Homo sapiens: one gene and its partners. The protein of the gene in region 2 purifies or fractionates together with the protein of the main gene of each other region. This does not show direct contact. Each region holds a gene or a part of one and is shown on either strand. Other genes may lie near its edges.

Evidence for each region.
Region 1: the proteins of CBX5 (region 2) and CHAMP1 purify together in Homo sapiens (affinity purification with mass spectrometry; 6 studies listed by BioGRID and IntAct, with this or other methods). This does not show direct contact.
Region 3: the proteins of CBX5 (region 2) and ZNF462 purify together in Homo sapiens (affinity purification with mass spectrometry; 4 studies listed by BioGRID and IntAct, with this or other methods). This does not show direct contact.
Region 4: the proteins of CBX5 (region 2) and CHD4 purify together in Homo sapiens (affinity purification with mass spectrometry; 5 studies listed by BioGRID and IntAct, with this or other methods). This does not show direct contact.

The regions. Positions count from the first base shown.
Region 1 is NC_000013.11:114,310,003-114,317,530, reverse strand, and holds the start of CHAMP1 (chromosome alignment-maintaining phosphoprotein 1), read right to left. Parts: upstream 3,029-7,528; 5' UTR 2,888-3,028; intron 1-2,887. UniProt on the Homo sapiens protein: Required for proper alignment of chromosomes at metaphase and their accurate segregation during mitosis. Involved in the maintenance of spindle microtubules attachment to the kinetochore during sister chromatid biorientation.
Region 2 is NC_000012.12:54,230,418-54,235,128, forward strand, and holds the end of CBX5 (chromobox protein homolog 5), read right to left. Parts: 3' UTR 525-4,711; downstream 1-524. UniProt on the Homo sapiens protein: Component of heterochromatin that recognizes and binds histone H3 tails methylated at 'Lys-9' (H3K9me), leading to epigenetic repression. In contrast, it is excluded from chromatin when 'Tyr-41' of histone H3 is phosphorylated (H3Y41ph).
Region 3 is NC_000009.12:106,929,138-106,936,167, reverse strand, and holds part of ZNF462 (zinc finger protein 462), read right to left. Parts: coding exon 6,409-7,030; intron 5,644-6,408; coding exon 5,479-5,643; intron 3,906-5,478; coding exon of another isoform or gene 3,723-3,905; coding exon 3,619-3,722; intron 666-3,618; coding exon 547-665; intron 1-546. UniProt on the Homo sapiens protein: Zinc finger nuclear factor involved in transcription by regulating chromatin structure and organization. Involved in the pluripotency and differentiation of embryonic stem cells by regulating SOX2, POU5F1/OCT4, and NANOG.
Region 4 is NC_000012.12:6,576,380-6,583,409, forward strand, and holds part of CHD4 (chromodomain-helicase-DNA-binding protein 4), read right to left. Parts: exon of another isoform or gene 7,000-7,030; coding exon 6,819-6,999; exon of another isoform or gene 6,735-6,818; coding exon 6,648-6,734; exon of another isoform or gene 6,558-6,647; coding exon 6,469-6,557; exon of another isoform or gene 6,370-6,468; coding exon 6,236-6,369; intron 5,903-6,235; coding exon 5,758-5,902; intron 5,436-5,757; coding exon 5,270-5,435; intron 5,231-5,269; exon of another isoform or gene 5,094-5,230; intron 5,010-5,093; coding exon 4,912-5,009; intron 4,795-4,911; coding exon 4,665-4,794; coding exon of another isoform or gene 4,659-4,664; intron 2,539-4,658; coding exon 2,467-2,538; intron 2,343-2,466; exon of another isoform or gene 2,174-2,342; intron 2,168-2,173; coding exon 2,030-2,167; intron 1,759-2,029; coding exon 1,650-1,758; intron 1,539-1,649; coding exon 1,406-1,538; intron 1-1,405. UniProt on the Homo sapiens protein: ATP-dependent chromatin-remodeling factor that binds and distorts nucleosomal DNA. Acts as a component of the histone deacetylase NuRD complex which participates in the remodeling of chromatin.

The DNA of each region.
Region 1 (7,528 bases), on a different chromosome or scaffold from region 2:
CGCCTCAGCCTCCTAAGTAGCTGGGACCATAGGTACCTGCCACCACATCTGGCTAATTTTTTTTTTCTGTAGCGATGAGGTCTCACTATGTTGTCCAGGCTGGTCCTGAACTCCTGGCCTCCAGAGATCTTGTTGCCTTGGCCTCTCAAAGTGCTGGGATTACAGGTGTGAGCTACCATGCCTGGCCTTTAAGAAATTAATAAACTGGGCGGGCGCAGTGGCTCACACCTGTAATCCCAACACTTTGGGAGGCCAAGGCAGGCGGATCATTTGAGGACAGGAGTTCGTGACCAGCCTGGCCAACAGCCAACATGGTGAAACCCTGTCTCTACTAAAAATACAAAAATTAGCTGGGCGTGGTGGTGCATACCTATAATCCCAGCTACCTGGGAGGCTGAGGCAGGAGAATCGCTTGAACCCGGGAGACGGAGGTTGCAGTGACCCAAGACTGAGCCACTGCACTCCAGCTGGGCAACAGAGTAAGACTCCATACTCACCCCCAACCCAAAAAAGAAAGAAATTAATAAACTAATTTTCCAAGTAGTTTTATGTTTGAAGAAAAACTGAAGGGAATGTACAAGAATTCCCACCTATCTTCTTGTCCCCAGTTTTTCCTACTACAGGCTGAGCATCCCTAATCTGAAAATCTGAAATCTGATTATGCTCCAACATCCAAAACTTTTTGAGTGCCAAAAGGAGCATTTTAGATTTCAGATTACGGATGTTTAACCAGTAAGTACAATGCAACTATTCCAAAATCCAAAAAAAAAAAAAAAAATCCAAAGCACTTCTGGTTCCAAGCATTTCGAATGAAGGATACTTCACCTGTATTAACATCTTGCATTAGTGTGAGATATCTGCTACAATGATAAGCTAATACTGATTTATTAAGTAGTCTATAGTTTACACAAGGAGTCATTTTTATTTATTTATTTTTTTTTGAGAGGGAGTCTCGCTCTGTCACCCAGGCTGGAGTGTAATGGCGCAATCTCGGCTCACTGCAATCTCCACCTCCCAGGTTCAAGCGATTCTCCTGCCTCAGCCTCCCCAGTAGCTGGGACTACAGGCGCGCGCCACCACAGGCTCACGCCTGTAATCCCAGCACTTTGGGAGGCCAAGGTGGGCGGATCACCTAAGGTTGAAAGTCAGAGAGCAGCCTAACCAACGTGGAGAAACCTCGTCTCTACTAAAAATACAAAATTAGCCGGGTGTGGTGGCAGGCGCCTGTAATCCCAGCTACTTGGGAGGCTGAGGCAGGAGAATCGCTTAAATCCGAGAGACGGAGGCTGCAGTGGGCCAAGATCGCATAACTGCACTCCAGCCCAGGCAACAAAAGTGAAACTCTGGCTCATTAAAAAACAAAAACAAAAATAAAAACAAAAAACTTGCCATTTAGGCCGGACATGGTGGTTCATGCCTGTAATTTCAGCACTTTGGAAGGCCGAGGCGGGTGGATCACCTGAGGTCAGGAGTTCGAAACCAGCCTGACCAACATGGAGAAACCCTATCTCTACTAAAAATACAAAATTAGCCAGGTGTGGTGGCAAGCGCCTGTAATGCCAGCTACTTGGGAGAATGAGGCAAAAGAATCCCTTGAACCCAGGGGGCGGAGGTTGCAGTGAGCCAAGGTCGGGCCATTGCACTCCAGCCTGGGCAACGAGAGCGAAACTCCCGTCTCAAAAAAAAAAAAAAAAACAAAACTTGCCATTTAATCATTTTTAAAAGCACAATTTAGTTAGTTTAGTACTAAAACGTTGTGCAAACATCACCACTATCCACTTCCAGAACTTCTTCACCACAAACAGAAATTCTGTACCCATGAAACAGTAACTTCCACTCTCCACTTTCAGTGCTGGTAATCTCAATTCTGTGCCTGAGGGGGAATCATACAGTATGTCTTTTTTGTGTCTTATTTCACTCAACATAATGTGTTCAATGTGCTCGTTTATACTGTATAATGTGTTCGTTTATATTGCAGCATGTATCAGAATTTCATTCCTTTCTAAAGATGAACAATGGTCCATTCATTATATGTATATACCACAGCTTGCCTTTCATCCACATGTTGATAGACATCTGGATTTTGAATAATGCTGCGATGAACATTTGTGAACAAGTATCTGAGTCTCTGCTGTCAATTTTTGGGGGTATAAACCTAGAACTGAGGAACGACTACCAATTTCCATAGCTGCTGCACCACCCTACTTTCCCACCAGCAATGCACCCGAGCTTCAATTTCTCCACATCCCCAACACTCATAATTTCCCTTTTTTTTAATAGCCACCCTAACAGGTGTGAGGTGGTATCTCATTGTGGTTTTCATCTGCATTTCCTTAATGGTTAGTGATGTTGAGCATCACTGCACGTGCTTATTGGCCATTTGTCTCTCTTCTCTGGAGAAATATCTATTCAAATTCCTTGCCCATTCTTGAACTGGGTTGCTTTTTGTTGGTCAGTTGCATCTCTTCTTGTATTCTAGACATTAACTCTTTATCAGGTTTACAAATGTCCTCTCCCACTTTGGAGGCTGTATAGCGGATTTTTAAACAGTAATAATGACAGAAGAGGAGGCAGTCTAGAACTAAAACAGAAAGAATGGCTTTCGTCTTGTGCCGCCCTCAACTTCCCAATGGTTTCAAACGCAATGTTTCCAGCCTCGGCAGCGACTGACACCGGGCCTCCCCGCTCCCTGCACAAAGACGCACTCCCGCCCCGGCCTGTGGGGGCGGGCCCTTCCCTCGGGCCGTGTGGGAAGCGAGGCAGCGCAGGCCCCCTTCACTCGGACCCGCGGCTTCCCGGGACCGTCCCCGCCAGGTCGGCGGCCGACACGGGGCTCGGGGATGCAGGCCCCAACCACGCCCCTCCCCCGCTCGCTCTCGCTCCTCACCGGTCCGGCCGCGGGCGGCGTCCAGTGGGCGATGGACCGCGCGGAGGGCCCGGCTCGCGGTCGCGGGCGGCTCCGCGAGGCCCTGCAGCGCAGCGGCCTCCCGAATGGCGACTGGATGCAGGAGCCGGGATCCGGGTGCGCGAGCGTGCGCGCTCCCGCGGGACGGGCGGGGGCTGACGGGAAGCAAGTTTGGCGCCGCGCGCCCTCCCGCGCGGGCCAATCAGATCGCCGATCGCGTGGCGCGGCTGTGCCAAAAGTGCGTGGGCAAAACTAGCGGCTCGCGCGGGCCTTCGGAAGGGCTGCGTGCCCGCCCCGCCCCGGAAGTGCCGCACGTGCCCACTCCGCCTCCGCTTCCCGCGCGCGCCCGGGCGCGGCTCCGGGAGGGTTCCGCCGCGTCTGGCCTGTGGCCTCCGGCCAGGCCCTTGGAACGGCCCCGGCCTGCCGCCGCCGTGCGGATATCTCTTCCTTTTCTTGCTGTTTTGATTGTTGTGTGAATGAATTTATTAGGAAAAAAAGAGCTAGACCTGCCCCATACATTCTCAGGGATATTACTGGCATAATACCTATGACAAAAGTACAAGACAAAGTTGTTGGATGACAGTAAATATTCCTTTTCTCATCACCCCGCCTCCACTGAAAGTCCCGATTCCCAGAAGTTATCTTCTTCGTTTTTTGTTTTCAGTTTTATGAATGTTACCACCACAATTCTAATTAAAATGCATGCACCTCTAATGCTGATGCCATCAGTCTGTATGCTTTGAAAGACTGTAAAATTAGCTCACACTGCTCTCTACCTTTGTACCCTTCTGAAGTTTTGCTTGTTGTGAATTTCATTTTTGTTTTTGTGGTGAAAATGAACTATAGAATGGCCGGGCGCGGTGGCTCACGCTTGTAATCCCAGCACTTTGAGAGGCCTAGGCAGGTGAATCATCTGAGGTCAGGAGTTCGAGACCAGCCTGTCCAACCTGGTGAAACCTTGTCTCTGCTAAAAATACAATATTAGCCAGGCGTGGTGGCGGGCGCGTGTAACCCCAGCTACTAGGGAGGCTGAGGCAGGAGAATCCCATAGAACCGGGGAGGCGGAGGTTACAGCGAGATCGCGCCACTGCACTCCAGCCTGGGGGAGAGAGTGAGACTCTGTCTCAAAAAAATAAAAATAAAATCCATAGAATTTACCGTCTTAACTATCTTTACGTGTACAGCTCAGTGGTGGTAAGTATATTCATAACACCACCATCCATCTCTGTACCTCTTTCATCTTGAAAAACAAACTATGCATTACATGTTAACTCTCGGTTCCCCTCTACCTTCTACTTTCTGGCAGTCACCATCTTACTTCCTGTGTCTCTGAGTCTGACTACTCATAAGAGTGGAATCATACAGTATTTGTCTTGTGACTGACTTATTTTACTTAGCAGAACATCCTCAAGGTTCATCCATGTTGTAGCACATTGTGGAATTTCCTTCCTTTTTAACACTGAATACTATCCCATTGTATGGATATGCCACATTTTGCTTATCCACTCACCTGTTGATGGACACTTGGCTTGCTTCCCTATTCAAGATATTGTGAATAATGCTTTGACATTTTCAAAGAACCAATTTTTGGTTTCATTGATTTTCTCTATCGTTTTCTATTTTCTATTTCATTTATCTTGGCTTTAATCTTTATTATTTCCTTCTTTTTGCCAGCTTTGGATTTAGTTTTTCTTTTTATAGTTCATTAAGTTGTAAAGTTAGGTTGTTAATTTGAGATTTTCTTGGTTTTTGATGTATTTATAGCTATAAACTCCCCCTTTAGCATTGCTTTTGCTGTATCACAAAAGTTGCTATATTGTGTTTACATTTTTTTCTTTTCTTTTCTTTTCTTTTTTTTTTTTTTTTTTTTTTGAGACAGAGTCTCGCTCTGTCGCCCAGGCTAGAGTGCAGTGGCGCCATCTCGGCTTACTGCAAGCTCCGCCTCCCGGGTTCATGCCATTCTCCTGCCTCAGTCTCCCGAGTAGCTGGGACTACAGGCTCCCGCCACCACGCCCGGCTAATTTTTTTGTATTTTTTTAGTAGAGACGGGGTTTCACCGTGTTAGCCAGGATGGTCTCGATCTCCTGACCTCGTGATCCGCCCGTCTCAGCCTCCCAAAGTGCTGGGATTACAGGCGTGAGCCACAGCGCCTGGCTCTACCTCCCTTTCATGCAAAATTTAGGATCCTGTGTTAATTTCCGGAATGATTCTGATTTCTAGGATTCAAATATCAATATTAAATATTTTAGGATTTTTCTAAGTTTTGTTTTTGCAGCAAAATTGATTCATTAAATTTAATAGATTTCTTTAAAAAGTATCCACCTAGTTACAAGCTTTTAAAAGAGCCAATGAAAACAGTTTGTAAACTGTAAATGTTAAATGCAGAAATGAGAGGATCTTTTATTTTCTCTGAATAGCAAAGATTTACTGATTGAGAACTTTTTGAGATCCTGACTCTTAATATGAAACAGGTTCGTTGTGGCTGCAGGACCTAATTTGAATGGCTGCTTCAGTTGTTTTTTCCTGAAGTGTCAGAATGAGTTGATGATCCCAAGAGACCTATTCCAATTGAACACTGAACAAAACTCTAGCAGAAGGCAACTCTTGGTGACGAAATAACAAAAACCAAAACACCCTCTGCTATTATTCTGAATTGAAATCATGTTAAAAAAGCTATTGTAGTTATAGAATATTAAATAGTTCAAGATGAATAATGCAAATAAACTCCCAATTTGGCCTTTTGAAAGGTTCCCAGTATATTGCACTAAACTTTAAAGTAACCAAAGAAAGCAGAAATAACTCTCATAAAATCCTGTACTAAAACCAGACCCTTATGGACTTTCAAAATTTCACTTAAGGATCTATTGAACATATACTTCTCAACAGTTTATTTTGATGTTTTCTCAACCTATACTATGTTCCAGGGACCAGACTTGAATCAGGGAATGGGTAGAGGCAGGTGAACTACAATTGCAGTAGAAAGTGGCAGCCTGACAGCCTTTGAGGAGCTGCAAACTCATTAGCTGAGATGGCACTGGACTTTGTCATTTGTCTTCTGTGTATAAAGAATAACAGTGCTGAGTATCTGCACATATTCAAAACCTACACAGAATCATGTTGTCAAATGAAGCAGCCAAAATCAGACTGGCTTTCTGTCAGAAAGTCAGACTTAATTTTTCCATTCAAATTGCTGCATTAATATGTATTACAAGGAACATAATAAAAATTAGAAATAAATTATTAAGTGCTTCCTGTAAGAGAAATAATAAAAGCAGTCCAGCTTATAATTTAGATCTAATATAATCAACTTAGCTACTTTATAATAAAAAAGGACAAATTATTCTGCTATTTCTACTTAATTTATAATAATGCAAAATAATGGGAACTAAAATAAGTTACTTAATGGGAAGTATGATAAAATGGAATTCCTCCTGAGTATCTAGCTCTGTTGCTGGGCTTTGGGGAATGTCAAAGTATAGTTCTCAAAAGTTAAACACATGACTCACACGAATATAAAGTGAACACATATCAGAGGATTTATTTTATTTTGTATTTTTTTTTGAGACGGAGTCTTGCTCTGTCGGCAGGCTGGAGTGCAGTGGTGCGATCTCTACTCACTGCAACCTCCACCTCCCGGGTTCAAGTGATTCTCCTGCCTCAGCCTCATGAGTAGCTGGGACTACAGGCACTTGCCACCACGCCCAGCTAATTTTTGTATTTTTGGTAGAGATAGGGTTTCACCATGTTGGCCAGGACGGTCTCAATCTCAGAGGATTTATTTAACTCATTCATGAGGGAATCCAGAGGAGGATGAAGCTAGTTCAGAAGGTTCATAAAGCTGAGTACGTGCAGCCACTAGAAAAAGTGGAGTCAAATGGCCAGTTAGAAACAAAAGTGGTTAGGATCCTACAGGGAAGCACAACTGCCACCTTTGAGGCCATGTTATAGAAATCACTCACATCTCTACTGGGCAAAAATCCGTAAGGAAACATGTGATGTCACAGTGTGGGCACAAATGTGGGTCAACTGTTAAATAATCGGAGCTTGTCAGACATGACACAGCCATGCAATCACTCTTTTTTGCCTTATTTCCGAGTTTTAGACATTTTTTTAAATAGGACTGAAAAATAAAAATCAAATATAAAAATTAGAATCAAGTCCATTAATATTTTCTTAATTTTTTTTTTTAACCATTCACTAGCCCCAGTTTTGGAGGGAGGAGAGGATGCCCAGGCCCCAGAAGCCTTTGCTGGTGGGCATGGGGCTCTTCCTTTCCTCTCAGGCAGAGCAGCAGACTTTGCTGAAGGGCAGTCTAGGTCCACACAGCTGCCAGGGGTGGCAGATGGGCACTGACTGCTGCATTGCAGGCACTCAATCAATGCTAGTTGAGCGCCAGTGAGCGAGTGAAAGGCAACTGGGAGCCTGGTGCTGGCCGGCAGAGCAGCTAAGTTCTCATATGGCCAGTTTACCGTGTAAGTGCAAAGCCAGCCTCAATCAATCCTGCTACACTCTTCATGAAAAGAGCAGCAGAGGGCACTTTGTTTCAAGCAGGCTGCCCAAGAACTATGGTCACCTGCTCTGCTGGTTGAAGAAAAAAAAAAGCAGGAGTGGTGAGCATAGAAA
Region 2 (4,711 bases):
ACTTTCCTCCTCCTAACTTCCAACTGACCTCACACCATGTTCCTGACCTGCAAGCCTTCCATCCTCAGAGAAGTTTCTTTGGTATTTGTGAAGCAAATCAGAAAGATAAAATACAAAGTTTACAAATTCACATATTTTCAAACCTGATTTAGACTGCATTTGCTTGATGTGGTATTCCATAAGTTCTAATAGCCATGAGATGACTCTTCCAGGGATCCCTAGGTTGCTGAAGCCTAATATTTATTCTCTGAACCATTAGGAGCAGAGAAGAGCATGGAAACCAGGAAAGGTACACACTGAACCAGTTAAGGAAATAAGAGTAGGAAACAGGATACGCATTATCTTATTTCCTCAGGCTTGCGCCAACCTGTGGTTATTTGCAGAAAGTCAGAGACCAATAATCCTTAGAAAAGAAGCCCATGTTCTCCAAGTCTTGTTGCTCTTTCAGAAATTGAGCTGACACTCCAGGGCCCAAATTAAAGAAGGGGCATAAGACCCAGATCTTTAAACCACCACTCAGAATCCATATTTGAAAAGCAACCATTTATTAGAACCAATACAAGAGTATGAAAAGGGGGAAAAGAGGAGGGTAGAAGAGGGGGAGAGAATGAGGTCTGCATCAGATGTCAGTTATGGAAACACATAAATGCTTACTTTTTAAACATTTACATTTAAAAGGTGAACATATATATAGACCACTTATACTTTAAAAAAAAAATCAAAAGCAGACATGTTTGGCTGAAATAAAACCAAGAAACACAGCTAAAACTCCCCCATAAACCTAAAAGTCCATGGAGAATTCAATTTCTCATTTCCATTCAGAAATCTGGCTACAAAGTGATTTGTTTGCTATTTGGGACAGTACAGAGTGCTGAAAGAAACCCAGCTCTTGAGTCTCTTAGATCCCATCCTGTAGGAAGTGGTGGGAAAGCCAGCGGACCATGGGCAAGTCAACTCCTGGCTACTTGGCAGGGAGTCAGACTGTGCTCTCTCCATTCCCCAGGACTCCACAGAACCATCTGGTACTGCTAGTGCTGGGTGAACAGTGAGAGCAGAGTCCACAAAACACAGAGAACCAGAATGTGACCGCAAGGAGCCAGGACCTTGTGCTTTTTCATGGATTACAAATCTAGGGCCAAGGAGAGGGAAAGCAGAAAGAGCCCTATTGGGAAGAGGAGCTGGCTGCGCCCCTAAACTGAGATGGAAAGAGTAAGGCTCTTGAGCCCACACCTGGCCAAGTAGAAATAGTGTCCAAAGTTTTCTCAAACCAGAGGGAAAAAAGGTCAAGGTTAGGTTCAGACTGCAGACACTAAGAGATGACAGATGTTGAATACGGTGAATGGGATGAAGCTTTAAGGATCAATGCCCAATTCTGAGTGTTATACACATTTCTAGGAAAAATAATTCCAATGTAGCTTTTGGGGGTGGGGGGTGGAAATAAGGTGGTCACATTTATTCAATCAGCTGGTCCCTATGAGGAAGGAGAGGCCCAGGTACAGATACCACAAAGGGGTACAGTGACCCAGCTGTCCTGGGATTGGTTGGGGAGTGGTAAGCAATGACATAAATCAAAACCATTGAGGGTTGCTTTGATCCTGAGACAGTCTGAGTCTGCTTCAAACCCATGGGGAAAGGAACTTTAATCCCCAACCTGCAGAGAGAAATACGCAGTAGCATCCCTGCCTCACGATTCCCTAATCCAATGCTCTTGAATCTGAAATGGCCTCCCTCTGTGAATGCAAGACACAGAAAATCCCAAGTGCCTTCCCCAACAACATCCTAAGTAAGTCTGGACTAGTAAGATTCCAACATTCATGAAAACACTGTCAACATCTGAACTAGCAGCTTTGATGAGGGGTGGGGGGCAGAAAATTTGCCGAGTCACTAAGTAGTTCCAGTCTTGGAGACAGCTCAGTGAGGACCAAAGCCTGTGTGTCAGGCTTAAACTCTGGCTCAAGACATCCTCCACAGAGGACCCTGAAGTATTCTATTAACTTTGATTTACAATGCCTCACAACAACACCCCTGTGAGGTAGGTCAGTATTATTAACCCCATTTGACAGATGGGGAACTGAGGCATTGAAAGAAGTGACTTGCCCAAGGTCAACCATTATCAATCAGTTGAGGAGGTGGGCACACAGAGTCAGCATCCACTCGATTCTTGTTCCATTTCCCAGAGCATTTTACCTCTCAGAGTGTACTTGGGAGCAGAGGGAAGTTGGCAGGATACACCTCATTCCACAAACTAGATTAATTCAATAACTGAAGGGTATTAACTGAGGGCCTATTATTTATCTAGTATAATGTGAGGAATCTTGGAAAAATGAACTGCTTCTGAAAGTCATGTTATAGATGTTTTGAAAATAAAATTACATCTTTAACATTAAGGACATGAATTATTTTGTAAAGAAATATTCACTTTATCTTAGGAGGTGAAGGACTAAGTCACACTGATTTCTCAGAGTTTTATACTGAGTAACCTGAATTCCTAAAATCCAGAAAGCAAGATCACATTCCAACAGAAACAATGAATAAGAACCTTTTCCCCAGTGGTGGTTCTTGGTAGCGCTCTTATAAAGCTGCAAGTTGGTGGCGTGGGAATCCTAGCACCACAAAACACCCTCTTACTACATCACATCCCTCCCCACAATACCCAGAGGGCTGCATTTTTCCAACCTTTCTGCCTCAGCTCAACTTCAAGAGTTACAGCATCTTCAAAAACACCTCAAGGGTAAGGATACAAATGGTGACCCCTGCTTTTCTATTCAGGGAGAGGGGATGAAAATATTCTCTGTAACTAATCATATAGACTCTTGAATTCTTTCCTCCTGTGAGAGATGTAACTCTTTAACAAAAAAAAGGTAGAAGAAAAAACAGTTATGTCTTTTCTCCCCCTTTGGATTTACTTTGGATTCTGGTAGAAATCATTATGTCTCTTATCCTAAACTGAGGAGGTGAGGGGTGAGGGTGACACGAGACAAACACCAAACTCACCACCAGCCCTCGTTTAGAATCCAATCCTAAAGCTACCGGAAACCAGAACACTGACTTGAGCCTTAAGAGTGTTGTGACATGATTAAACTGTCTTTTCAGGTGTTCTCAAAGAATTTCTAGGCAGAAAGCCTCTCCTTTCTTCCATACCTCTTCACAGCAGCCAGTGTAGGAAGTCCCCACATACAACAGAAACTCAAAAGATGATTTATCAACACATACAGTAAAATGTTCACTAGGGGCCGGGTGCGGTGGCTTATGCTTGTAATCCCAGCACTTTGGGAGGCTGAGGCACGTGGATCACTTGAGCTCACGAGTTGGAGACCAGCCTGGGCAACACAGGGAGACTGTCTCTACAAAACATTTTTTAAATAATAAAATTAGCCAGACACCGTGGTGTGCGCCTGTAGTCCCAGCTGCTTGGGAGGCTGAGGCAGGAGGATCATTTGAGCCCAGGAGATTGAGGCTGCAGTGAGCTGTAATAAAGATACTGTGGCCGGGTGCTGGCTCACGCCTGCAATCCCAGCACTTTGAGTGGCCGAGGCAGGCGGATCACAAGGTCAGGAGTTCAAGACCAGCACGGCCAAGATGGTGAACCCTGTCTCTACTAAAAATACAAAAATTAGCCGGGCATGGTGGCAGGCGCCTATAATCCCAGCTGCTCAGGAGGCTGAGGCAGAGAACTGCTTGAACCCGGGAGGCGGAGGTTGCAGTGAGCCAAGATCACGCCACTGCACTCCAGCCTGGGCAAAAGAGCAAGTTTCCATCTCAAAAAAAAAAAAAAAAAAAAAAAAAAAAGGTTCAATATGGATACTCTAGGTACAGGAACCATTCCAAGACCTAAATAGATTTTTTTTTTTTTCCTCACTGATAGCTGATCACATTAAACAGGTACAGGTGCTAAGAAAGTTTAAGACTGATCTTTTGGCAATGACAGTTTAGGTTAACTCTGTTTGGAATTCCTAAAAATAAAAAGAAATCCCTTAAAAAAGGCTGACAAACTGACCACTTGGCCTTGAATCGACTGTTAGGGTCACACCTGCCAATGCCAGGGGACATCACAAAAAAATAGAGAATGCCAAGATAAAAAGTTCACTGCATTCAATTTGGCCTAATTTCTTGATAATAGTTTCCTATTAGATTTTCCGATTAATACTGATGGCTCTTACCTAGGCTGTGATAATTAGGTTTTGATCTATTGTGACATTAATGATCACAATCAGTTGACTTTGAAATTGTCTTAATTAATGGCTCTTTCCTTGTCAGCTTTTGCCTCCAGTGCAGGATTCATTCCCTTCCCCACTGCCTTGTTTTAACTCCTTCTCTTACTGACCTCAGAAACAAATAGCATTGGAGGATCACTTTCTTCCCATAAAACAAGACTTTAAACTATTTTAAAACATTTCTCTTGACAGAGGAGCAATATGAGATGATGTTAGATGAAATGAGGATCAGAATGAAAAGGCAAGAGAACAAGCTGTCAATGAACAGGAAAAATTCCATCTTAGAAAACAACCAAAGTCAAGCACAATGTTAAAGTGACAAGTTGAAGTAACTCTAAAAAGACAAGATGAGGTAGATTAAAATCCAAGAAAGTCAGCACAAGCAAAAAGAAACCAGAATTGTTTTTATGAAACTATCTAAAAAACTTCACACTTTAACTTTCCAGAGCAGTTACTCTAATTCCTGGGAATTCTGACTTCCAAAGTTAGTCAACTCT
Region 3 (7,030 bases), on a different chromosome or scaffold from region 2:
TTCTAATGAGTAATGAGATGGAACAACAATATGATAGAGACCAGCACAGCTGCTGGACACTCACAACCCAAAGTCATTTCTGTCTTATGTACGGAAACATATCTAAGGGTATCTCTTGAAAAATCTCACACATCTTGAGTTCCCTTTGCCCTTTCTAACTTCCTTAAGTTGGTAACTTTATTTTAGCTGGAAAGTCTTTTTAATAGATATAACAATTCTTGGCAATTGAATTAGAAAGTATAGGCAGTTTAGAAATTTCTGTAAAAATCACCAACAGTCTAATTCTAACTTGTCAGTAGGACGAACGAACTAACCATAACATGGGTGACATAGGCTTTGTATTATTTTGGATTTAGGTGATTTTGTTTAACTTTTACTTTTTTCTTTATTTTTTCTTTACTAGGTAAAAATAAAACTGAATATACATCCATCCCAAGAATAACATTCTCAAGTGTAAGGCAGGACAGTATTTCACTCAATAAAGATCATCAGGTTTCAAACTCAGAGAGTGCTAAAGAACTTGTGCATCATCAATGCACAACTCACCAGCATGAGCTTTGAGTATATGTGTTTTCAGCCGGCTGTTATAGGAGGACTTGAAGGAGCAGAGTTTGCATCGGAATGGTTTATGGTGTCCGTGGTGGGTTTGCATATGGCGATCCAAACTTGATGTAGAAGGAAAACAAAAAGAAAAATGACAAAATTAAAAATTGCATAGAGGATTTGCTCATTGCTTTTTTTCCAGGAATCCTACTTCTAGGTCGTTCAAAGTCCTTTTGTTTACTTTCCAATAATGGCATTTATCAATTTAATTAATTAATTTTCAAGAGTTGTACCTACTCTAAGAGGACAGGAAGCTAAAGGAAGAGATCAAGAGTTTTTTTTGGATTTAGAGATATGGCAGTGGTAACAGGTCATGGTAAGAATCTTTATTGTCCCTTCTTAGAGCTCTGATCATTGGAAGAGTGTATCTAAAGAGAAGGTACAATATGGGTGAATTCAAGCTTCCTGCCAAGCCAGTGAGAGTGCCTATCAATTAGTCCTCTAACTTATTCAAATAACAGAATGGGAATTAGAGAAATTTAGCATTTGAAAAGAGCTGACTTTCTTTTTGAATTCTAATTCTACTTTCATTGTGAACACTAGAGTGAGGAAGGGAGGTTTCGAAGTGGCTGACCTTCTTGCAATGGGCTGTCTTGTTGCCAGGGTCTATATTAATATGGAGGCACAGTGCATGCATGTTTAAAGGAGCCACGTGGTCAAAAGGCCGCACATCCCTTCTGATACACACAACCATGTTTGCTGTAAGTCTTCCAGAAGCAATTTACAAGGGAGTTATTTAATTACAACGAACCCCTAGTACTTCATAATAATTATTAGCCTAAAAAAATAATAAATCTACCAAACAAGGTGTGGGAAGTTCTAATTTGTATCAGCACTCCAGAGAACTAAATTCCCTTCTAAATGCCTCATGTGGGAACGGTACTGCTTACCATTTCAACATATAATGCTGTCCTGAGCTCCAAAGCAACATTTTCAATTGCCCCTGGACAGCTCCCTCTGGGTGTCCTTTAGTTCTCTTTAACTCAACCTGTTCTAAACAAACCCATCAGAGAGTTTTCTACAAAACAAATTCTCTTCTTCATTTCCTTGTTTCTATAAATGGCACTAACCTTTCTTCCAGATGAGTAAACTGAAAACCTAGTTGCCATTTGTATTTTACTTTGTCCCTCATCCCACGCATGAAGTCAATTTTTCCAAGTCAGGCAAATCCATTCCTTCAATCATTCCCTAACTTCTTGAACTAGCTACTATTATTGCTTCTTAATTCCTTGTCCCCCAGCCCCCATGGATTTTTTTTTTTTTTTTTTCATCTCAAGAGCACACGCTATGGAGTCAGACTACCTGGGATAAAATCTCAGCCATTACATATAGGCTGTGTGTCCTTGGGCAAATTACTTAATTTTTCTAGGCTTTACTCTTCTTATTCATAAGATGATAATAATGGGGCCATACCTTATAGGAGAGTTTTGAGAATGAAATTAAGTAATATTTAAAGGCCCTTAGTACAGTGCCTGGTATATAGTGAGATGCAATAAATGTTAGCAATTATAATTATTTTGCTAATTTGACTCTTCCTTTTACCAGCAATTTAAATTATGAAATACTATTTCCTGGCATTTAAAACTCCAAATATGGTCTCCTTTAAAGTATTTAGACCTTATCTTTCACTATTCCTTTACATGTAACTTAAGGATTAGTCAAACTGAACCCCCAGCTAGGGCCCCAGTCAGCTTCATGGTCTCCTCCCTCAGCTTTTCCTCTACATCATATGTCCTTTCCAAACTATTCAAGTCCTATTTTCCTACTTTAAGACTTCACCCAAATGCTCCTTATGCCATAAAACCTTCCTGACTCTTCCAAAGCTGATGTAACATTTCTCTTCTTTGACACATCATAGTATTTTACTGATATTTTCAAAGACGTGCTTTATTTTGATGAGTCAGTGGGTTTTGTTTTGTTTTTTTTTAATTTCATAAACCAACCCTTGACCCTAAATTCCCCTGGCCACAGACCATGGCCTGTGTCTTTATATTTCCCAAAAGTACAGTACCTAGGACAGGATATATTCATTTATTCACAATTATTTAAAGTTCCACTGTGCGTCAGACAATGTGATAGATGCTGTTCAATAAATACTTCTTGAATTGAAGTATTTCAAGTTTTATGCCAATGTATGGATCTGATGACAAAGATTAGATATTAGGCTCTGTATAATAATAAAGTGTTTACAACCCATCCTAACCTCTGTGAAAACACCACCTCCTTCTTCTGTTCAACAACCACTAACTGGCCCTTTATCTTTTGTAAGAAGCAAATAGTCCATCATTTATTTCATTAAAAAAATTGTTTTAAAAAGCATGTCAGTCTTAGTCACCTTTATCCAAGACTGTCCAAACGCATTATTGAATATTTATCTCTCTTTTACACGGCTGAAAGAGAAAGGCAACAAAAAGTTGTTCTTAAAACCACCCCTCTTTCCATGGCCCCAAAAAGCCTTACACACCTATTCCATATTTACACTTTCAAAGCTGTGATGAGTAATGGGAAGCTCCCTCTCCTCAATCTCCCTGTATGTCAAGCAACTCTTTGGCATCCATGAACTTCTTTACCTTTCAAGATCTTTTGAAAAATTGCAAGCAATGTTTCTTTGGTCACATGGGTTAATAGTCCTAATTTTACCTCTTTAGCAACTCAGTTTTCTAAATGGACTTTACTTCCTCAAACAATGACTAGATTTTGGCTGAATGTTTGAACGATGAATCAGGAGACTCATCTACTCTCCACAGATGCCATTTTACCTTTGGGTAAATCATAGCAATTCCTCCAATTCTCATTTTTAAAATGCCTGCATTTGCCAAATCTAACGCCATCCGATCAATCTCCTGTTCTCAGCCCCATTTTACAGAAAAGGTGACTGAGGCTCCAGGTAACATAGCAGCAGGTGTGAACCATGAGTGGGGCCTTCTTACTCATCCAAGCTTCTGCTTTAGCTTAGTGCCTTCCACTATGACATCATCTCCCAGTAACCACTAGTGACCCCCCAATAGCACTTACTTGTGCCTGAAAGCAGAAACAAACGAGCAATACTGGCAGCTGTACTTGTCCTCGCGGGTAAACATGGCCAGGGCCAGGTGGCTCCTCTCATGAGAACGCAGCCCCTGCATGGACATCAGGACTCTGTCACATTGACTGCAATGGTATCCCCCCGGCCGGGTTTCATCCTCCAACATTCCATCAAGCAAGCAGTGTTCACCATCCACCCGGCCCACCAGGGCGCCACTGGCGTCTTTGGCTGCTTCCAATCCATCCAGGAACAAGTGGGCAGGGTCATCCGCCTCCTGCTAAGAGAACCACACACACACACATGCCCCACCAACAAAATAAATATCCATCATCATTGCCTCCAGCTTTCTTTTTCTCCCTACATTCTCCCAAACTCAACAGCACTTCTTGTCAAAGCTTCCTCCCCTGCCTCTCCAGCTACCCCTAGAGGGAGAGCAAGCCCAACTGCCATTCTTCATGCAGTGGAGGTGATTTTAGGACAACATACCCGGACACAGGTTGCTACTGTTTGCGAAATGTGAACAAGGGCTTCTCCCACTCTGAAGACACTTCACTCACTTCTTCCCCATCTTAAAAGAAAATTCAAACTGCAACCCCATCTAAGTTGACATAAAGTTGGGCTAGGGTTGTGGCTCACAGAAAGGAGAGGAAGAAAGGAAGAGAAAGAAAAGCAAAGTAGTATGGTCATTGAGGAGCCTTGGGCCATTATCTGGAAAGGAAGCAAAGCAAAAGATCCCGCTGTCTGCCCCCTACCCTGTAGATGGTGACTTCACTCTATGACTGGAGACTGCTGCATAATCAATTCAAAAAATTAAGGAGCAGCCTAGTTTTAAGTCACCTGTTTTTCGAGATAGCTCCTTGGGTTACTGATTACACAGGAAAAGCCCTTCTGTCTCTCTCACATGATCCCAGGAAACGAGCCTGGGACACACCGCAGTGGTGTCTGAAAGAAAGTGACTGCTGATATCCCTGGGTTGCCACTGTTCTGCCAAAAGACAGAAAGCTTCAGTCTTCAGTGAAGAAAAGTAGAGACTTTATCTTCATGTTAAATTGGCAAAATAGGATGTAAGCTCAAGAAGGGCAGATGACAAAAATATGTTCGCGTGTACCCTTAGAGAAAGGGCAGAACCCCAAAATGACTTCTGTTTTAATAAATAATAGGGCTTAGCAATATCCTGGAAGACGGGGATGGTGGCTTGGTTACTGACATGGTGGCTGCTATTAGGATTATGATGTTCAAAACAGGTGGCCTAATAAAAGTCAGAGGGAAAAGGGAAGACACTTGTCAGCATCATATGGGAGAGGGGATGGAGGAGACAAACCAAGGCTTTCAGGGTCAATTGCGACTTGAACGCTTTTAGTTTTAATGTCTCTTGCAGTCCCCAGAGGACCCAGGATAAGAAGACAAAGAGATTCTCCTAGGCTCTCTGCATCCTCAGCCAGATGAGAACAGTAAGAAGTCAGGAAGAAAGAGGAGCAGAAGATGATGGGAACAGAACCCACTTGATTCCTCTCAAGAGCTCGGGCAACTTGGAAGAACGAAGAGCTAATGGCACTAAACGCAGAATAGAAGGACGACCCGAAGCCTCCTAGACCGAGAATCCTGGACCTTCTGCTGCCACCAAACTATCCGCGTGGAAGGAAACCAGATCGAAACTCGACCTTTCCCTGAACAGAAAGATGAGGAAGGTCCAACCTGCAAAGAAATCAAAACAAGCCAAACCAATCCAAGCATAATTCAGGAATGCCCGCATTCTGAGATGCTCTTTCCTGAGCTGCTTTAGGCAATGGGGTTAATAAGTAACTCGAATCGCTCACACACAATGCTCATCCAGACCTTCCAGTTCTCACCTTCACAGCAGCTGACACAGCTGGGACATTGCCATACTGGACGTGCTTTCGGAGGTGATTGCAGATGGCTCGGAGCGTTGGGTGCACTTCCACACAGAATTTACATTTGTAGCCCACCACTTTCCTCTCCTTGATCTTTGGCACCTCTTCTAAGTGACCAAAAGGCTGGTAAAATACAGTGGTAGCCATCAGTACTCCGAGCCCTCCCTCAATTGTCAGAATTTATTCTTGCAGTTTACTAACATACTTTATTTTAAAGCCGATTAGCAGGTTAAAAACCAAGGGAGATATAGGCGAGTATTTTTATATAACAAATTTGTCAGCATCATGGCACGCTGCCTACTATGCAAAGTCTTTGAAACCCAAATACATTACGGCTTGTGAGTAGAGAAGATTTCTGTGCAGAAGCTCATCGTCACTGCCACTAAGTCATCTGGTTTTCAAACCAGTTTCAACTAGGCAGGTGAAACGTTGCATAGTTGCGCCATTAATGAACTTCTTGATAAAATAAAATCTACTCCTGGAGACGTTAGGTTCATGTAGCAAACACTGAAGACCAAGACATGGCTGAGAAGTGCTAATGGTACCAAGAGACAGCCCACACTGCCTTAGGAAAGAGCGAGCGTTGTTGTAAAACTAGGCTTCAGATAAAGCTACTTGGCAGAAAGACATACATAGAAACCACCCCAAACCTCCCCTGGGGAGCCATGGGAGGAGTCAAAGGGAAGGAGGGAGGAGAAGGGACCAAGGAGAGGGGTGAGCACAGAATGGGAGATAATCAAGCTCGAAATGTTTAATTGACTTATTGAGCTCTCTGGCAAGCTAAGTCACTAGGAAGCCTGCAGCAGTTTGGCTGGCAACGAAGAAGTGCATGTGGGCACCAGTGATGAGAGGCCTCCTGGGGGAAGGGAAATCAAAACATATCCTTACCCTCTCTTGTTTGAAATCTGCAAAAGCACCATCTGCATATTTCTGCTTGCTCAAAAGCTGTTTCCTCCTCTCCTGACGTTTGGCACGCTTCTGGAATTCCTCATTGTGAATGTTCAAGTGTGAGGTCAGCTCGGCTGTGCTTTGCAGTTTGCTATCACAGTGCTTACACTGGTAGGTGGAGTTCTGCAAGCGGGGGCCGTTGCCCAGAATGATGAAGTCCCTCTTTAGGTCCCGACTGTGGTGGTCAGTGTAATGCATGCACAGCAGCTCTGCAGTGCTAAAGGACAGCTTGAAGCATTTGATGCAGCGGAATGGGAGCCACTCGATTTCCTGAGCTTCACCCTCCACCTCGGCTTTCTCAAAGTTGCCTCTCTCCTCTTCTTCCATCAGTGTGGGCTTCTCATGCTCATCTGCATAGACGGCCGTGAAGTAGCCCCCCAACTTGCTGGCGTGCTGCTTCTTTGGGAACACCCCTGGGTGGCGTTTCATGTAATGGGACACGATGCCCTTCTTGCTGAACGACTGGAAAGAGCACAAGGAGCACTTTTTCTTCTCCACTGCCCGCCGGAGTTCCTCGCTCAGCTGAGGGGAGTCGTCCTTGGGCGGGGATGGGATGATCACT
Region 4 (7,030 bases), about 48 Mb from region 2:
TCTCACTCCAATGCCTAGGCTGGAGTGCAATGGCACAATCTAGGCTCATTGCAGCCTCCTAAGTAGCTGGAACTACAGGTGCACGCCACCAGAACTGGCTAATTTTTGTATTTTTTGTAGACATGGGGTTTTGCCATGTTGCCCGAGCTAGTCTTGAACTCCTGGACTCAAGCAATCAGCTCTTTTAAATGCTGAGATTAGCCACTGTGTCTGCCTCTCTGAGAACTTTCTTTTCTTGTCTTTTTTGAGGTGAGTCTCGCTCTGTCGCCAGACTGGAGTGCAGTGGTGCGATCTCGGCTCACTGCAACCTCCGCCTCCCGGGTTCAAGCGATTCTGGAGAACTTTCTTATGCCAATCAGCAATCTCTCTCCTGATATGCAGAATGGCATTCATTTGATTACACATGTGCTCCTACTTGAAACTGAAAGCTCCTTGAAAACAGATACCATGCTTTGTCTTTTTATCCCTGGGCACATCATTGCTTAGTACATAATACCTGAAGGCTTATTAGTGTACCATTTCTTCCCCGATTATACTCAGCGTACGAGACAACAGACACGTCTTTTTTTTTTTTTGAGACAGAGTCTCACTCTGTTGCACAGGCTGGAGTGCCGTAGCACGATCTCAGCTCACTGAAATCTCTACCTCCCGACTTCAAGCGATTCTCCTGCATCAGCCTCCCAAAGTGCTGGGATTACAGGCGTGAGCCACCGCACCTGGCCCACACAGGCACTTTTTAGCCCAGAAAAAAGAACCAGGCCAGGCATGGTGGCTCATGCCTATAATCCCAGCAATCTGGGTGGCCAAGGCAGGTGGATCACTTCGAGGTCAGGAGTTTGAGACCAGCCTAGCCAACATGGTGAAACCCCATCTCTACTAAAAATCCAAAAAAAACAGCTGGGTGTGGTGGCAGGCGCCTGTAATCTCAGCTACTCAGGAGGCTGAGGCGGGAGAATCACTTAAACCCAGGACACAGAGGTTGTAGTGAGCAGAGGCTGCATCACTGCATTCCAGCCTGGGCGACAGAGATTCTGCCTCAAAAAAAAAAAAAAAAAAAAAACAACCAGCAGCCCACTGACTAATAGCTCTACATCTTCAGAGATGCAATTCAATCCCACCTCTATATCTTTCCTGAATACTCCAATCTGCAGTGTTCCCCAAACAAACCCCTCTGCACTAGTGTGTCACTGATTGGACACATAGTCACCTACAGCTCATGTACAGTTAGTTAACTTTCAATTCTGTGTGTCTTCAACCCTAATGTGTAAGTTACTTGGGAGCAAAGCCTTCCATAGAATGAAGAAAGTGAGAACAGTGCGCTGGATGGACAGACTCCCTCTGCTGCAGGACGTTACGCACTTTCAAGTTTGTCACTTAAGCAATATATTCCTCCCCAACCGCTCACCTTAAACCTTCGAGCTAGAAATTTATTCTTGATCTCTAAGAAATTGCCACGGTTCATTTCACCCTTGAAAGGCTCATTGAGGATGGCATAGCGTGGGTCATTCTGGATGTCTTGCCACCGGGCATAGCCATGGCTATTGGAAAAGTGCTCAGGAAAAACAAAACAAGGAAAGTAAGAACCTCAAACTAAAAGACCTTCAGAACCTTTCACCAAAAGCCTCAGTACAGATTCAGGCAAAGGATACTTTATAATGCCGGCTAGCAGCCAGTAGTCATGCCGTCGATGCCAGATCTCATAAGTCTTCTTGGTAACTGTGGCTGCCCGCTCTTCATTCTGCCAAAGGGAGTGCAACTCTGAGGAGGAATTTAGGGAAGGTTGGGGGTGGGGGGAAGCAAACATCTGTGAGAATTGAAAAAGCTACTTATTCTTGTCCCCCACCATCCCCTACCCCTGGATCCATTTCATATAATTTGCTTCTGGCTTTCTCCACAGAACCCACTATCAGTTTGGCATTCCCTCATCAAACAGAGGTAAAGAGGTAAAGTCCCTGTACCGTGGTTTCTGACAAGAACCCCAATTTCACATCAGATCCTTCTAACCCTGGTGGGCCCCTCATTTCCATACCAGTAAAACCACCATCTGCAATGTTAAACATGAAACGTTGTTTAATATTTTTCTTCTGTTTCTCATCATTCAGGTCCTTGGGGGTCTCTCCATTCTGAAGCATCACCTCTTTTTTCTCTTCTTCTTCTTTCTTCTCTTCTACAGAATATGGGGAAGAAAAATGTCAGCTCCAGCCAAAGCCCAGCACCATCGCCCTTACCCAGAACACTGTATGCTACAAGAATCCATCCACCTACACCCCTTCTCCACCTGGGTGTCTCTCAGACCCAGAAAATGGTGCCATTGGCCCACTGACAACTAAATGTGGGGACAGGTACAGTCTTTTATCTTGGGATAAAATGGCTAGATGAGTATGGACAGGGAGGCAGGGCAGATACAGTCCTTGCTTCTGGTTTTAGAGTTCTTCTGAACCACAATCAACTTCTCCAAACACCCACCTTTGTCTTCTACCACAATAGGGGTCAGATCTATTGCTGACTTTTCCTCCACCTTCTCTACATCAGCAGCACCTAGGGGAAGAAATGTTATTGAGACTATACCTAAAGGAAGAACATTCTCCTCTGTTGCACACTATTATCCAATTGGATAGACCCACATCTAAATGTCTGCAATTACAGTAATGTCAGCTGGGCATGGTGGCTCATGCCTGTAATCCCAGCATCTTGGGAGACAGCAGCAGGCAGATCACTTGAGGTCAGGAGTTCAAGACCAGCCTGGCCAACAAGGTGAACCCCAATCTCTATTAAAAATACAAAAATTAGCTGGGTGCGGTGGCTCATGCCTGTAATCCCAGCACTTGGGGAGGCCAAGGTGGGTGGATCACCTGAGGTGAGGAGTTAGAAACCAGCCTGGCCAACATGGTGAAACCCTGTCTCTACTAAAAGTACAAAAATTAGCCAGGCGTGGTGGCTCACACCTGTAATCCCAGCACTATGGGAGGCCGAGATGGGTGGATCTCTTGAGGTCAGGAGTTCATGACCAGCCTGGCCAACATGGTGAAACCCCATCTCTACTAAAATACAAAAATTAGCCGGGCGTGGTGGCGCATGCCTGTAATCCCAGCTACTCAGGAGGCTGAGGCAGGAGAATTGTTTGAACCCAGGAGGTGGAGGTTGCAGTGAGCCAAGATCACACCACTGCACTGCACATCAGCCTGGGCGACGGAGCAAGACTCCATCTCAAAAAAAAAAAAAACAACAACAAAAAAAACAATTAGCCAGGCATGGTGGCTACTCAGCAGACTGAGGCAGGAGAATCACTTGAACCCAGGAGGCGGAGGTTGCAGTGAGCCAAGATCGTGCCACTGCACTCCAGCCTGGGTGACAGAGTAAGACTCCGTCTCAAAAAAAAAAAAAAAAAAAATTTTGGCCAGGCGTGGTGGCTCACGCCTGTAATCCCCGCACTTTGGGAGGCCAAAGCGGGCGGATCACGAGGTCAGGAGGTGGAGACCATCCTAGCTAACACGGTGAAACCCCGTCTCTACTAAAAATACAAAAAATTAGCCGGGCATGGTGGCAGGCGCCTGTAGTCCCAGCTACTCAGGAGGCTGAGGCAGGAGAATGGTGTGAACCCGGGAGGCGGAGTTTGCAGTGAGCCGAGATGGCGCCACTGCACTCAAGCCTGGGCGACAAAGCGAGACTCCGTCTCAAAAAAAAAAAAAAAAAAAAAATTACGTGGGCATGGTTGTGGCACGCCTGCAATCCCAGCTACTCAGAGGCTGAGGCAGGAGAATCGCTTGAACCCAGGAGGCGGGAGTTGCAGTGAGCAGAGATCGTGCCACTGCACTCCTGCCTGGGTGACAGAGTGAGACTCCATCTCGAAAACAACAACAACAACAACAACAACAACAAATAAAGTCATAAGAGATACCTTAAGTTAGGGGAAAACCTGCCACCTAAAATCAAGGGTGCAGGATTCTTCAGTGTGTCGCTTCCTCCTGATATCTCTACAGCCCCAGCAAAAATTCACGAGTGACCATGGTTCACACAGGGATCTGTAGTGCTTAATATGGATACCGGCCAGGCATGGTAGCTCACGCCTGTAATCCCAGCACCTTGAGAGGCCAAGGCAGGTGGATCACCTGAGGTTAGGAGTTGGAGACTGGCCTGACCAATATGGAGAAACCCCCTCTCTACTAAAAAATACAAAATTAGCTGAGCATGGTGGTACATGCCTGTAATCCCAGCTACTCAGGAGGCTGAGGCAGGAGAATCGCTTGAACTCAGGAGGCGGAGGTTGCAGTAAGCCGAGATCGCACCATTGCACTCCAGCCTGGGCAACGAGTAAAACTCCTTTGAAAAAAAAAAAAAAAAAAAAAAAGCCAGGCACAGTGGCTCATGCCTGTAATCCCAGCAATCTGGGAGGCAAAAGCAGGTGGATCATGAGGTCAGGAGATTTAGACCAGCCTGGCCAACATGGTGAAACCCTGTCTCTACTAAAAATACAAAAATTAGCTGGGCATGATGGCGTCTGTCTGTAATCCCAGCTCCTCGGGAGGGTGAGGCAGGAGAATCGCTCGAACCTGGGAGGTGGAGGTTGCAGTAAGCCAAGATCGCGCCACAGCACTCCAGCCTGGCGGCAGCACTACACTGTCTCAAAACAAACAAACAAACAAAAAAAATGTGGATACCTTTACCTTTGGGCTCTGTCTCCATAGGTTCCTCTGTTCTCTCCTTCACCTCTGCCTTTTCCACTTTCTCCTCTCCCTCAGGGGGTTCAACAACGACCTTTTCATCCTCTGAGGCAGGGGCAGGGGCCTGTGTACACTTCAAAGGAAAAAAAAACAAAAACAAAACAGATGAAGCAGACAGGCCAGCAACTAAAAGGAAGACTGGACTTACACATTTGTCTTTAGTATGGCATTCAGTCACCCCATCTCTTACCTCAATGGCAGTCTCAGGGGCTGTAGATTTAACCTCCTTTTCTCCTTCTATGCTCTCTTCTTCTTTGAGGCTATTTTCCTCTATTTTTATCCCATCTTCTGCAGAACAATAAAAGACAATCAATTAGGAAGAAGGTACTAGATCAGAGAGAAGGTCATTTCTTCCCAGTTTGTCTCATCTTAAATTGTCCTCTCGTGCCTTTAAGAGCCAGCCCTATTCTTAGGACGGCCCTCCTAAACTGAGAGGGAATTGCTGTGTGTCCTGCCAGACTACCCTGTTAGAACTGAGCACAGGGGAGCAGAAAAATAGGCCAGGACAAAAAGAGAGGGACAGAAAATGATAGGACAGGCAGACTTACCAGCAGGTGGGACAGGTGCAGGAGTGTTGGGCTGCGTGTCCCCTGGAGTGGAGGGTGTAGGAGTTTTTGGGGAGGGTGACCCTGGCTGGGACATCTTCTTGTTTTCCTCCACCTCAGCCAGTTCAGGCATGCTCCAGCGCCCATTAACATGTTCAAACTCCTGAACCTGTAGCAATGGGACAAGAAGTTGAAGACCCAATTCCAGCTACAGGCTCCTTTCCTATTGGCCTTCCAGTCTCCGCCTCCCGGGTTCAAGCAATTCTCCTGCCTCAGCCTTCTGAGTAGCTGGGAATACAGGTGCCCGCCACCACGTGCAGCTAATTTTTGTATTTTTAGTAGAGATGGGGTTTCGCCATGTTGACCAGGCTAGTCTCTAACTCCTGACCTCAAGTGATCCACCCGCCTCAGCCTCCCAAAGTGCTGGGATTACAGGTGTGAGCCACTGCGCCTGGCCCCCTAGAAACAATGGCAAGAGGCTCAGGGCTCACCTTCTTGCGAATCAAAGACATAACACCAATTCTAGTAAGGACATGCTGGCGAGACAGGCCTTCTCGGGGGACACCATCAGCAAAGGTCTCAGCCCCATCTGCCCCCGGCTCACATAAATGCCGCATGAAAAGAGAGACATATGCCCTGTGTAAAGAAGTAGAGAAAGAGTTAAATAGGGATCATGCTGACTCTTAGATTCTTTTCCATCCCTTCGTGAGGCATTATCACAGGCAATAACTATGGCTCCACCTTGAGGTAAAGCCCACCACTGCACGGGAAGGCTGATCTCTAGACCCCACAAGAAGACCCAGGTTCTCTTCCAGGGAAGCTAGGAACACATTACTAACAGCTTCACCTGCCAACTTCAACAGAGAAAATAGCCCACTTCCCTGCACGGCTAGGCCTAGAACCATGGAATGACCAGATAGATAGCAGAAGCCCTTGCTCTAGATCAGTCCACTCCAGCCCTCAACTCACTTGAACTCTTTCTCTGATTTGCCTCGCAGGTCTCTTACAAGCCACTGGGTAGTAAAAGCATCCTGAGGTGGCATACCATATCGCATAATTGCATTAAGAAAGGCTTTTCGCTGACGAGCATTAAAACCAAGTACCTAGGGGAAGAAGAAACCCAGGTGAGAGGCAGCAGGTCGCATTCCACCAAAGATGCAATATCTGACACTCACCCCTCCTTAGAATCGTATGGCACTTACTTCAATATTCCCACCAACACGGGCCAACAGAGGAGGCAATGGCTTATCTTTATCATTCCGCAGGCCCTTACGACTGGGCCTACGGGGAGCTGCAAGAAGAAAAAGATGAATGAGTGACACAGGTAGGATATTAAACAAAGCAACATTTAGAAAAGCAACAAAAAAAGCACAGCCCTCACCTTCTGAACGTTCATCAAAGTCTTCATCACCTTCCTCTGAAGCCACTGAGTAATCGGACTGGTTGTCGGACTGGTCGTCCTGCCAATCTGGAGGGAGAGAGGGCAGATGAGCGGGGCCCACTGCTCTAGTGGAACGGCCCATGGGTGGGGGGCGGGGCCGGCCACACACACCTCGGTCCTCCTGGGAGCCATCATTGTAGTTGACCTGTTTACGGATTCTTTTTCCTTTGCCCAGATTTCGGGCTAGATCTTCTTGCTGCTGCTCATAATGGTGCCGCAGCAATTTCTCCCAGTAGTCAGGATCCACACTTTCTTCCTGTTTAATGATTTCCCGTTCTACCTCCTCTTCCTCCTGGGACAGAGGGAGGGCCAGGACTCAGGAG